Homo sapiens: one gene and its partners. The protein of the gene in region 1 interacts with the protein of each later gene in a biochemical or structural test. Each region holds a gene or a part of one and is shown in the gene's direction. Other genes may lie near its edges.

What was found.
Region 2: the proteins of NUMA1 (region 1) and ERG form a complex in vitro, tested with the Homo sapiens proteins (one large-scale study listed by BioGRID).
Region 3: of the proteins of NUMA1 (region 1) and CDK6, one has a biochemical effect on the other in vitro, tested with the Homo sapiens proteins (one large-scale study listed by BioGRID and IntAct).

What each region holds. Positions count from the first base shown.
Region 1 is NC_000011.10:72,004,871-72,007,617, reverse strand, and holds part of NUMA1 (nuclear mitotic apparatus protein 1), read left to right. Parts: exon of another isoform or gene 1-182; coding exon 183-429; exon of another isoform or gene 430-1,354; coding exon 1,355-1,583; exon of another isoform or gene 1,584-2,073; intron 2,074-2,248; coding exon 2,249-2,385; intron 2,386-2,747. UniProt on the Homo sapiens protein: Microtubule (MT)-binding protein that plays a role in the formation and maintenance of the spindle poles and the alignement and the segregation of chromosomes during mitotic cell division.
Region 2 is NC_000021.9:38,488,368-38,492,025, reverse strand, and holds part of ERG (transcriptional regulator ERG), read left to right. Parts: intron 1-3,658. UniProt on the Homo sapiens protein: Transcriptional regulator. May participate in transcriptional regulation through the recruitment of SETDB1 histone methyltransferase and subsequent modification of local chromatin structure.
Region 3 is NC_000007.14:92,606,930-92,609,663, reverse strand, and holds part of CDK6 (cyclin-dependent kinase 6), read left to right. Parts: 3' UTR 1-2,734. UniProt on the Homo sapiens protein: Serine/threonine-protein kinase involved in the control of the cell cycle and differentiation; promotes G1/S transition. Phosphorylates pRB/RB1 and NPM1.

The sequences.
Region 1 (2,747 bases):
GAGTGGACTGAAAGGAAGGCCCAGGTCAAGTGCTTTCCTTGGTACCTCTGAAAAATCAGAGAGATGGGCTGCTTGACCTCATCTGCTTGTAGTAAGGATGGGAAATGGTCACTTTCAAAAAGGGCTGGACAAAATGCCTTCTAGCGTGAAGGACTGTACCTCAGCAGGTTTCCTTTCCATAGCAAGCTGCCTCGTACCCAGCCAGACGGCACCAGCGTCCCTGGAGAACCAGCCTCACCTATCTCCCAGCGCCTGCCCCCCAAGGTAGAATCCCTGGAGAGTCTCTACTTCACTCCCATCCCTGCTCGGAGTCAGGCCCCCCTGGAGAGCAGCCTGGACTCCCTGGGAGACGTCTTCCTGGACTCGGGTCGTAAGACCCGCTCCGCTCGTCGGCGCACCACGCAGATCATCAACATCACCATGACCAAGGTCAGGCTGCTGGGACAGGGGCTGCAGGGCAGCAATTCCCACTTCCTCTCAAGGGCATCTTTGCACTGGGCACTCAGTCAGGAGCAGGGAGGGATGAGCAGCCAGTCCATGTTACAGTGGGAAAGCTGAGAGGTCTTAAAAAGGGCAGTGACTTGGTTAAGGGCACTTCTGAAGAAAAAGGCAGGGCTAGGATTAGATCCCTGCCTCCTGACTAAGGCTAGCATTCTCTCCATGCGTAGCACTGAGCCTGTGCAGGGTGAAGGGAGAGAACGTGGCGAAGCTGCAGCCCATCCTGTGCCTCCCAGCATGCCCCATGCAGCTGAGAGGCATTGTTGCTGCCCAGTGGACTGCCTGACAGGCTACAGGCCCTTGCCTTTGTTTCCACATCTTGAAGGGGAGGTTTGGGAGGAGGGGAGAGGGGCCCCTGGTACAGCAGGGGGGACCTGTGTGTTTAGGGTGCCCCCTGCTACCAAGAAGTTGGGGAAGTTCTGGAACATGGTAAGGGCCCTGGAAGTTTGGACTGAGGGACAGCAGAGGCTGTGGGATGAGCCTGACTAGTCAGGAGACATGGGGCCTAGCCCCAGCTCTGATACTTCCTAGCAGTGTGATTTGGGGCTAGTCACTTTATTTCTTTGCACTTCATCTCCAAAATGGGCCGATAAACACTCTGCATTCCCTACCTCAAAGCATTATGAATAGACTCCATGAAAAAAATGCGTAGAAGAGTCTTGACAACATCAGCACCACCTTGTGAGGGCTTCTGTCGACAAGGCCCATTTCTTGCAGACACACACTTTAAGGACCTTTGCAAAGCAGTTGGGAATACATGGATGTGCCGTGGGATCTGAGGGCTTCGGAAGGGAATGGGAAGCTTCTGTACAGTGCCAGGGACTGTACACTGCAACAGATTCACTCTGTCTTCCAGAAGCTAGATGTGGAAGAGCCAGACAGCGCCAACTCATCGTTCTACAGCACGCGGTCTGCTCCTGCTTCCCAGGCTAGCCTGCGAGCCACCTCCTCTACTCAGTCTCTAGCTCGCCTGGGTTCTCCCGATTATGGCAACTCAGCCCTGCTCAGCTTGCCTGGCTACCGCCCCACCACTCGCAGTTCTGCTCGTCGTTCCCAGGCCGGGGTGTCCAGTGGGGCCCCTCCAGGTGAGGGGACTACAGGGACTTACTATACCCCAAAATTAGACTGGAAGGTGGATCGTGGCACAGGGAAAAGAGGAAAGCTTTTTAAAAATCCAAGGCTGGCCTCCTTGCTACCATCCAGCTCCACCTGCCCCTCCTTCCTGCAGCCTCAGGGCCTTCCTTACCTGCCCATCTAGGGGCTGGCTGTGTTGGGGGCACTCTTAGCCAGAGTTAAGGGCCCGGGATTCCCAGCACAATTGTGACACTTAGCTGTGGGGAGTCCTCCATGCCCTTCTCAGGCGGTGATGGGCTGCTGGAAAGGCCAGGCTGGCCAGACTCTTCTTGGAAGCTCTTGTCCTTTGGGCACCAGGGAGCCCCTGGGAATTAATTCCCGGTCCTTAATTTGTTCCTCTGGGTGTTGGCCACCAAGCCTTGGCAGGTGAGTAAGATGTAGTAGCAGTCTCTGCGTGTGACCTCTTCTGCCCTCTCCAGGGAGAAGGTGGTGAGCAAGCCCCTAGGATAGAAATAGTCTGTGTGCCGTACTCCTGCACCTGCGGCACTGAATCAGACTGGTGTGCTGGGCTTCAAGTTTATGGGGTAGGTGGCAGCAAAGGCTGGCAAGATGCCAGGGCCAGGAGGTGACCTGCCGACTCCAGGCTCATTTGTTCCCACTTCCCTGCCTTCCACAGGAAGGAACAGCTTCTACATGGGCACTTGCCAGGATGAGCCTGAGCAGCTGGATGACTGGAACCGCATTGCAGAGCTGCAGCAGCGCAATCGAGTGTGCCCCCCACATCTGAAGACCTGCTATCCCCTGGAGTCCAGGGTGAGGCCTGGGGTCACTGTGCAGGGCCTCCCATCCCTGCCCTCCCTTGGAATCCCACCTGCTGATCTAGCCTGAGCACTAGGGCCCTGGATCACTGACTGGCCGAGGAGGGGGAGGGTGACCTTCTCATGTTTCCAGGTGGAACAGACAGCTGGGAGGGCACTCAGGGGTGAAGTCCCTTGGGGTAGGCAGGAGCTCAGAGAGGAATCTGGTCAGGACTGCACTGCTTGTGGCCATTTGCCCAGGGCTTAGGTAGAAAGCAGAACAGGAAAGGAGGCCTTGTGTCTTTCTACCTCGTGAGGCAGGAAGGGTCCCGACCATAAGTGTCGGGCGAGTGTAGAGTTCTGGGACAGCCCCAGGTC
Region 2 (3,658 bases), on another chromosome or scaffold:
TGAAAATTATTATCGCTGGTTACTTTATGTTATCTACTCTTCTGGGAAAAATCCCATAGGCAGCAATTCTTATACTCTAGGTGGCTAATCAAAACAAAGTTCTAGAAAATTCAAGAGGTAAAACTCTAGCACTGAATTCTATATTTGCTCAGTGACAAGAATTCTTTCCATATTTGGCGAGATCCAAGGGGCAGTGCTTCCAGATTCCAGATCAGCTGCTGATTTAAATTTCCTCATCCCAAGTATCAACTTCCTTGCACTCGTCTTGGGCGTCAATAATGAACACGCAGGTCAGAGTTTTCCATAAGGCCTTAACAAGTCTTTCAGCAGGGTGTTCATGGAATTAAACTCTGGGAAGAACGGTAATCTGCTGTTGTACACAGATAAGTACAGAGACATTTTGAAAAGAAATGCTAAGGCCAAGCAAAATGATTTATTTTTAAAGTGCCACATCAGAATCCAATCATAACATTAACCTCAGGGCTGTTACTTTAAACACGTTTGGTAAAAACAATGCTTGTCGAATTTTTGAAAATATAATAACTTTATGCAAAGATCCCGCACTCTTGCATTTAACACATTCCACTTTTTAAATCCTTCTGCCTTGATGATTTAAAATCTCCCTTGCTGGTTTTTTTGTTTTTTAAATTTACCAAGTATTGATACAGAATCAGCACTGAAGACAGGACCCTTCTGCTACCTCCACATTCACATTCCCCCCAAGGCCATTCATTCAGATCGTCAGCCAGCAGTGAGTTTCTCATCTCCATGCTCTTTGGGTTTCATCGGGTTTTATTGGGTCTTTTTTTTTTTTTTTTTAATTTTGACAGTGTGCACATGATGCTCACCTTTGAGGAAGAAGAAACTGTTGAAACAACACTTTAGAATCTGTCAACACAATTAGTTTGTGTCTCAATTTGAGGTAGATGTCCCAAGACATTGCTCCAAGTTAAAAAGAAAAAAAAAGTATGTGGTTTTGCATTGCGTAGTCCTCTTTGGATCCATACGATATGTGTGCCTTCCCTGACCTTCCAGAGAGCATCAAAAACATGAAGGTTGAATCCAGAGAGCACAGCCCACTTTTATCTTTGGCCCAGGGAGGCACTTGGTACTCTGTATTTCTTCGTGGCATCCTTAAAATAGCCTCTGTGGAAAAGGGATTGGCCTTATCTTCCGTGCAACGGATGGGAGGCATAGATATAGCTGCTGGCAAGGGGAAGTGGAAAGAGGCCCATCTGGGAGAGGGTGGCCCGGAGCTTTAGTTTGATGCTGCAGGACTTCCCCAGGTGAACGCACCTCTCCTGGCCCTAGCTCCCTTATAGGAAAATGGAGGTGGTCAGCTCCGCCTTCTCCACAGTGACCATCTGCTGACTGTGCTGCTGCCAGGACGCAGGGGGAGCTAACAGCAGTGCCCCTATCGGATCTTCAAACCGGGGAGGGGTCTCGTGCAGTGGGCAGGGGAAATGGGCTCCCACCTGGCTTTTGGGGTTCACTCCCTGGCTGTTCTACTTCCTGGCCATTTCACCTTTGGCAAGCCACAGCCTCACAGGAGATAGGCTTTTCCATCGGTGAAATGGGTAGAGTGATAGTTCCTACTTCACAGGGTTATAGTGAGATTCACCAAGTCGCAAGAGCCCAGAACTGTATATGGCACACATAAGCTCCTCAATCAAAGTTAGTTAATTTTACTATTCATTCAAGCCAAATACATTTTTCTTCTAAGACTAAAATCAGGGAATCTATGAAAAGCATTTCCCCCTACCTTTTTTTTTTCAATTTCTACAACAGTTTGTGAATTGAATTTTGTTTTCAATTAGCCAATTTGTCCATTTTCCTGTGATGAACATGTTTTTATCTCTTCATTATAAAGTAAGAACTCTGACAGACACAGTGAGCTCCCAATTATTCACGAGCACCTGATCTGCATTGGAGATTGCTTAAAACAGGGCTGGGAAATGCTTGCTGGTGAGTTCACCGGACACTGCACAGCAGGTCCTGGAAGGAGACATTCAGGGCGTTGTTAACTTCTGTGTCTCCCTATTCTTCTTATTCTCCTTCCATACTCTTTCTCTCTCATTGCAATCGCTATCCACCTGGAAGGCGGCTTGAAAAACACAAAAGACAACAAGGATGATGAGGGGGACCCCTCCTGAGCCTCTTAAATGCTGAGGGATCCTTCCTGGACCTGTTTTTATTCATTCCAAGCTGCCTCTCCTAGACAATCACTTCTCTTACCCCAGGAAATCTGGGACGGTGCAGGTTTGCAAGCTTGATCTGGAATAAAGAAACAAAGGAAAAGACGGACCAGGAGGCTTGGCCTACGCCAGGCAAAAGTCAGCAAAAGCAGCCACTACACATCTCCTTTTGAGTTCTAACTTTTCACTTTGTCTTGTGTGAACTCCTAAACTGGAAGCATATTTATAGTCACGTAAAAATAAGAATATTGTCCAAGGCCAAATGTAAGTGACTTTTATGAGTTATTGGACTTTGTGAATTACTCATTCTACCAACCTGAATTAACATAGATAGTTTTGTTGACTTTACCTTCTTTGTAAGCCAAACAGTATGAACTCGGTTAAGCCGGTCTTAGGAGAAAAGACATAAAATGTGTGTTGCTAGGATAGCATTCTAGTGAAGGAAGCCACTTCTTTGTTTCTTGTGCATCCCTGTGAGGGTACCTCTGTCCATCCCAAGAGCTGTTTTCATGGACTCACTGTTGAAAGCCCAAGCCTATTGTAACCAATTTTGATAAGCTGGTTACAAAATAAGCACATGTATACATTTTTTAAAGCCTTGTTCTTCTGGAGATGGAAAACATCTTTTTTTAGATCACATGTTTACTGCTTTGGTAAACAGTAAAATGCTGCTACAGCAATTACCTTGAGGATAAAGGGTTTGTAGACAGATACTTCCTGCGTTCACTTCCTACACAGATAGCCAGCCCAACCAGAGACGCACTGATGCAGGAAGGGCTCCCAGTGGAAACTTCCTCTCTCCGAATGCGTGGTCCATTATTCGTTATCTCCTCTCCAAGGGGAATAAGCTTGTTGCTCCAGATTTTCTAGGAGAATTCTGTCTTGAAACAGGTAAAAATATAAAGTTTCTAAAGTAATGATTACAGTACCTCGTTCTCATCCTCGGTGTCATCTACTCGGTGATTTTTAAGGGGACGTGATTAGACTAGAATAGACTTGTCTATGAGTAACATGCCCCGTAGGCACCTCTGTCTCCTTTGAATCATGGAAAATGATGCATAATTCGAATGTTTTTATATTTGGTAGAAAAATAAGTCTCTTTGAGATTCAATGGAAGGCCTTTTCTATGGTTAGTTGAAAGGTCATTTTAGATTTTGCTTTCTTTAGTCAAGCAGAGATTACCAGATTTGGGTACAAAAAATATCAGCTCACAGATTGTTCTCTGTGCTGATTTTACAGCAGTTACTAAATTCCAACGAATGCATTGTTTAGGCCCTTTGAACCGAAGCAAATAAAACCACAGTGCACACACACTAAACAATAGGGCATCATCAATTAGCCATCTACAGGATGTGTCCTTGCAGACTGGCCCCTTTGTAGGAGAAAAAAAAATAGATCAAGTCAACAAACAATAACACTGAACAATAAACTAAACAAAATAAATAGCACCTGGGAGCCCCTTA
Region 3 (2,734 bases), on another chromosome or scaffold:
GCTTTCAAATTCCCTAGCATGGTGGCCTTTCAACATTGATTAAATTTTAAAATCCTAATTTAAAGATCAGGTGAGCAAAATGAGTAGCACATCAGTAATTCAGTAGACAAAACTTTTGTCTGAAAAATTGCTGTATTGAAACAGAGCCCTAAAATACCAAAAGACCAGGTAATTTTAACATTTGTGGAATCACAAATGTAAATTCATAAGAAGCTCTAATTAAAAAAAAAAAGTCTGAAGTATATGAGCATAACAACTTAGGAGTGTGTCTACATACTTAACTTTTGAAGTTTTTTGGCAACTTTATATACTTTTTTTAAATTTACAAGTCTACTTAAAGACTTCTTATACCCCAAATGATTAAGTTAATTTTAGAGGTCACCTTTCTCACAGCAGTGTCACTTGAAATTTAGTAGGGAAGGATATTGCAGTATTTTTCAGTTTCCTTAGCACAGCACCACAGAAAGCAGCTTATTCCTTTTGAGTGGCAGACACTCGACGGTGCCTGCCCAACTTTCCTCCTGAGTGGCAAGCAGATGAGTCTCAGTAATTCATACTGAACCAAAATGCCACATACACTAGGGGCAGTCAGAAACTGGCTGAGAAATCCCCCGCCTCATTCGCCCCTCTGCTCCCAGGAACTAGAGTCCAGTTAAAGCCCCTATGCGAAAGGCCGAATTCCACCCCAGGGTTTGTTATAACAGTGGCCAGTCTGAACCCCATTTGCTCGTGCTCAAAACTTGATTCCCACTTGAAAGCCTTCCGGGCGCGCTGCCTCGTTGCCCCGCCCCTTTGGCAGGAGAGAGGCAGTGGGCGAGGCCGGGCTGGGGCCCCGCCTCCCACTCACCTGCCGGTGCCTGAAATTATGTGCGGCCCCGCGGGCTGCTTTCCGAGGTCAGAGTGCCCTGCTGCTGTCTCAGAGGCATCTGTTCTGCAAATCTTAGGAAGAAAAATGTCCCTAGTAGCAAACGGGTGTCTTCTGTGCATAAATAAGTACAACACAATTCTCCGAAAGTTCGGGTAAAAAGAGATGCGGTAGCAGCTGCCCTGTGTGAAGCTGTCTACCCCGCATCTCTCAGGCGCTAAGCTCAGTTTTTGTTTTTGTTTTTGTTTTTTTAAAGAAAAGATGTATAATTGCAGGAATTTTTTTTTATTTTTTTATTTTCCATCATTCTATATATGTGATGGTGAAAGATATGCCTGGAAAAGTTTTGTTTTGAAAAGTTTATTTTCTGCTTCGTCTTCAGTTGGCAAAAGCTCTCAATTCTTTAGCTTCCAGTTTCTTTTCTCTCTTTTTCTTTGTTAGGTAATTAAAGGTATGTAAACAAATTATCTCATGTAGCAGGGGATTTTCATGTTGAGAGGAATCTTCCGTGTGAGTTGTTTGGTCACACAAATAACCCTTTCTCAATTTTAGGAGTTTGGATTGTCAAATGTAGGTTTTTCTCAAAGGGGGCATATAACTACATATTGACTGCCAAGAACTATGACTGTAGCACTAATCAGCACACATAGAGCCACACAATTATTTAATTTCTAACTCTCTGTGGTCCCTAGAAAAATTCCGTTGATGTGCTTAGGTTAAAGTTCTGAAGATACCCGTTGTACCCTTACTTGAAAGTTTCTAATCTTAAGTTTTATGAAATGCAATAATATGTATCAGCTAGCAATATTTCTGTGATCACCAACAACTCTCAGTTTGATCTTAAAGTCTGAATAATAAAACAAATCCCAGCAGTAATACATTTCTTAAACCTCACAGTGCATGATATATCTTTTCATTCTGATCCTGTGTTTGCAAAAATATACACATGTATATCATAGTTCCTCACTTTTTATTCATTTGTTTTCCTATTACCTGTAGTAAATATATTAGTTAGTACATGGAATTTATAGCATCAGCTACCCCCAGGAACAGCACCTGACAGGCGGGGGATTTTTTTTCAAGTTGTTCTACATTTGCATAAATTATTTCTATTATTATTCATGTATGTTATTTATTTCTGAATCACACTAGTCCTGTGAAAGTACAACTGAAGGCAGAAAGTGTTAGGATTTTGCATCTAATGTTCATTATCATGGTATTGATGGACCTAAGAAAATAAAAATTAGACTAAGCCCCCAAATAAGCTGCATGCATTTGTAACATGATTAGTAGATTTGAATATATAGATGTAGTATTTTGGGTATCTAGGTGTTTTATCATTATGTAAAGGAATTAAAGTAAAGGACTTTGTAGTTGTTTTTATTAAATATGCATATAGTAGAGTGCAAAAATATAGCAAAAATAAAAACTAAAGGTAGAAAAGCATTTTAGATATGCCTTAATTTAGAAACTGTGCCAGGTGGCCCTCGGAATAGATGCCAGGCAGAGACCAGTGCCTGGGTGGTGCCTCCTCTTGTCTGCCCTCATGAAGAAGCTTCCCTCACGTGATGTAGTGCCCTCGTAGGTGTCATGTGGAGTAGTGGGAACAGGCAGTACTGTTGAGAGGAGAGCAGTGTGAGAGTTTTTCTGTAGAAGCAGAACTGTCAGCTTGTGCCTTGAGGCTTCCAGAACGTGTCAGATGGAGAAGTCCAAGTTTCCATGCTTCAGGCAACTTAGCTGTGTACAGAAGCAATCCAGTGTGGTAATAAAAAGCAAGGATTGCCTGTATAATTTATTATAAAATAAAAGGGATTTTAACAACCAACAATTCCCAACACCTCAAAAGCTTGTTGCATTTTTTGGTATTTG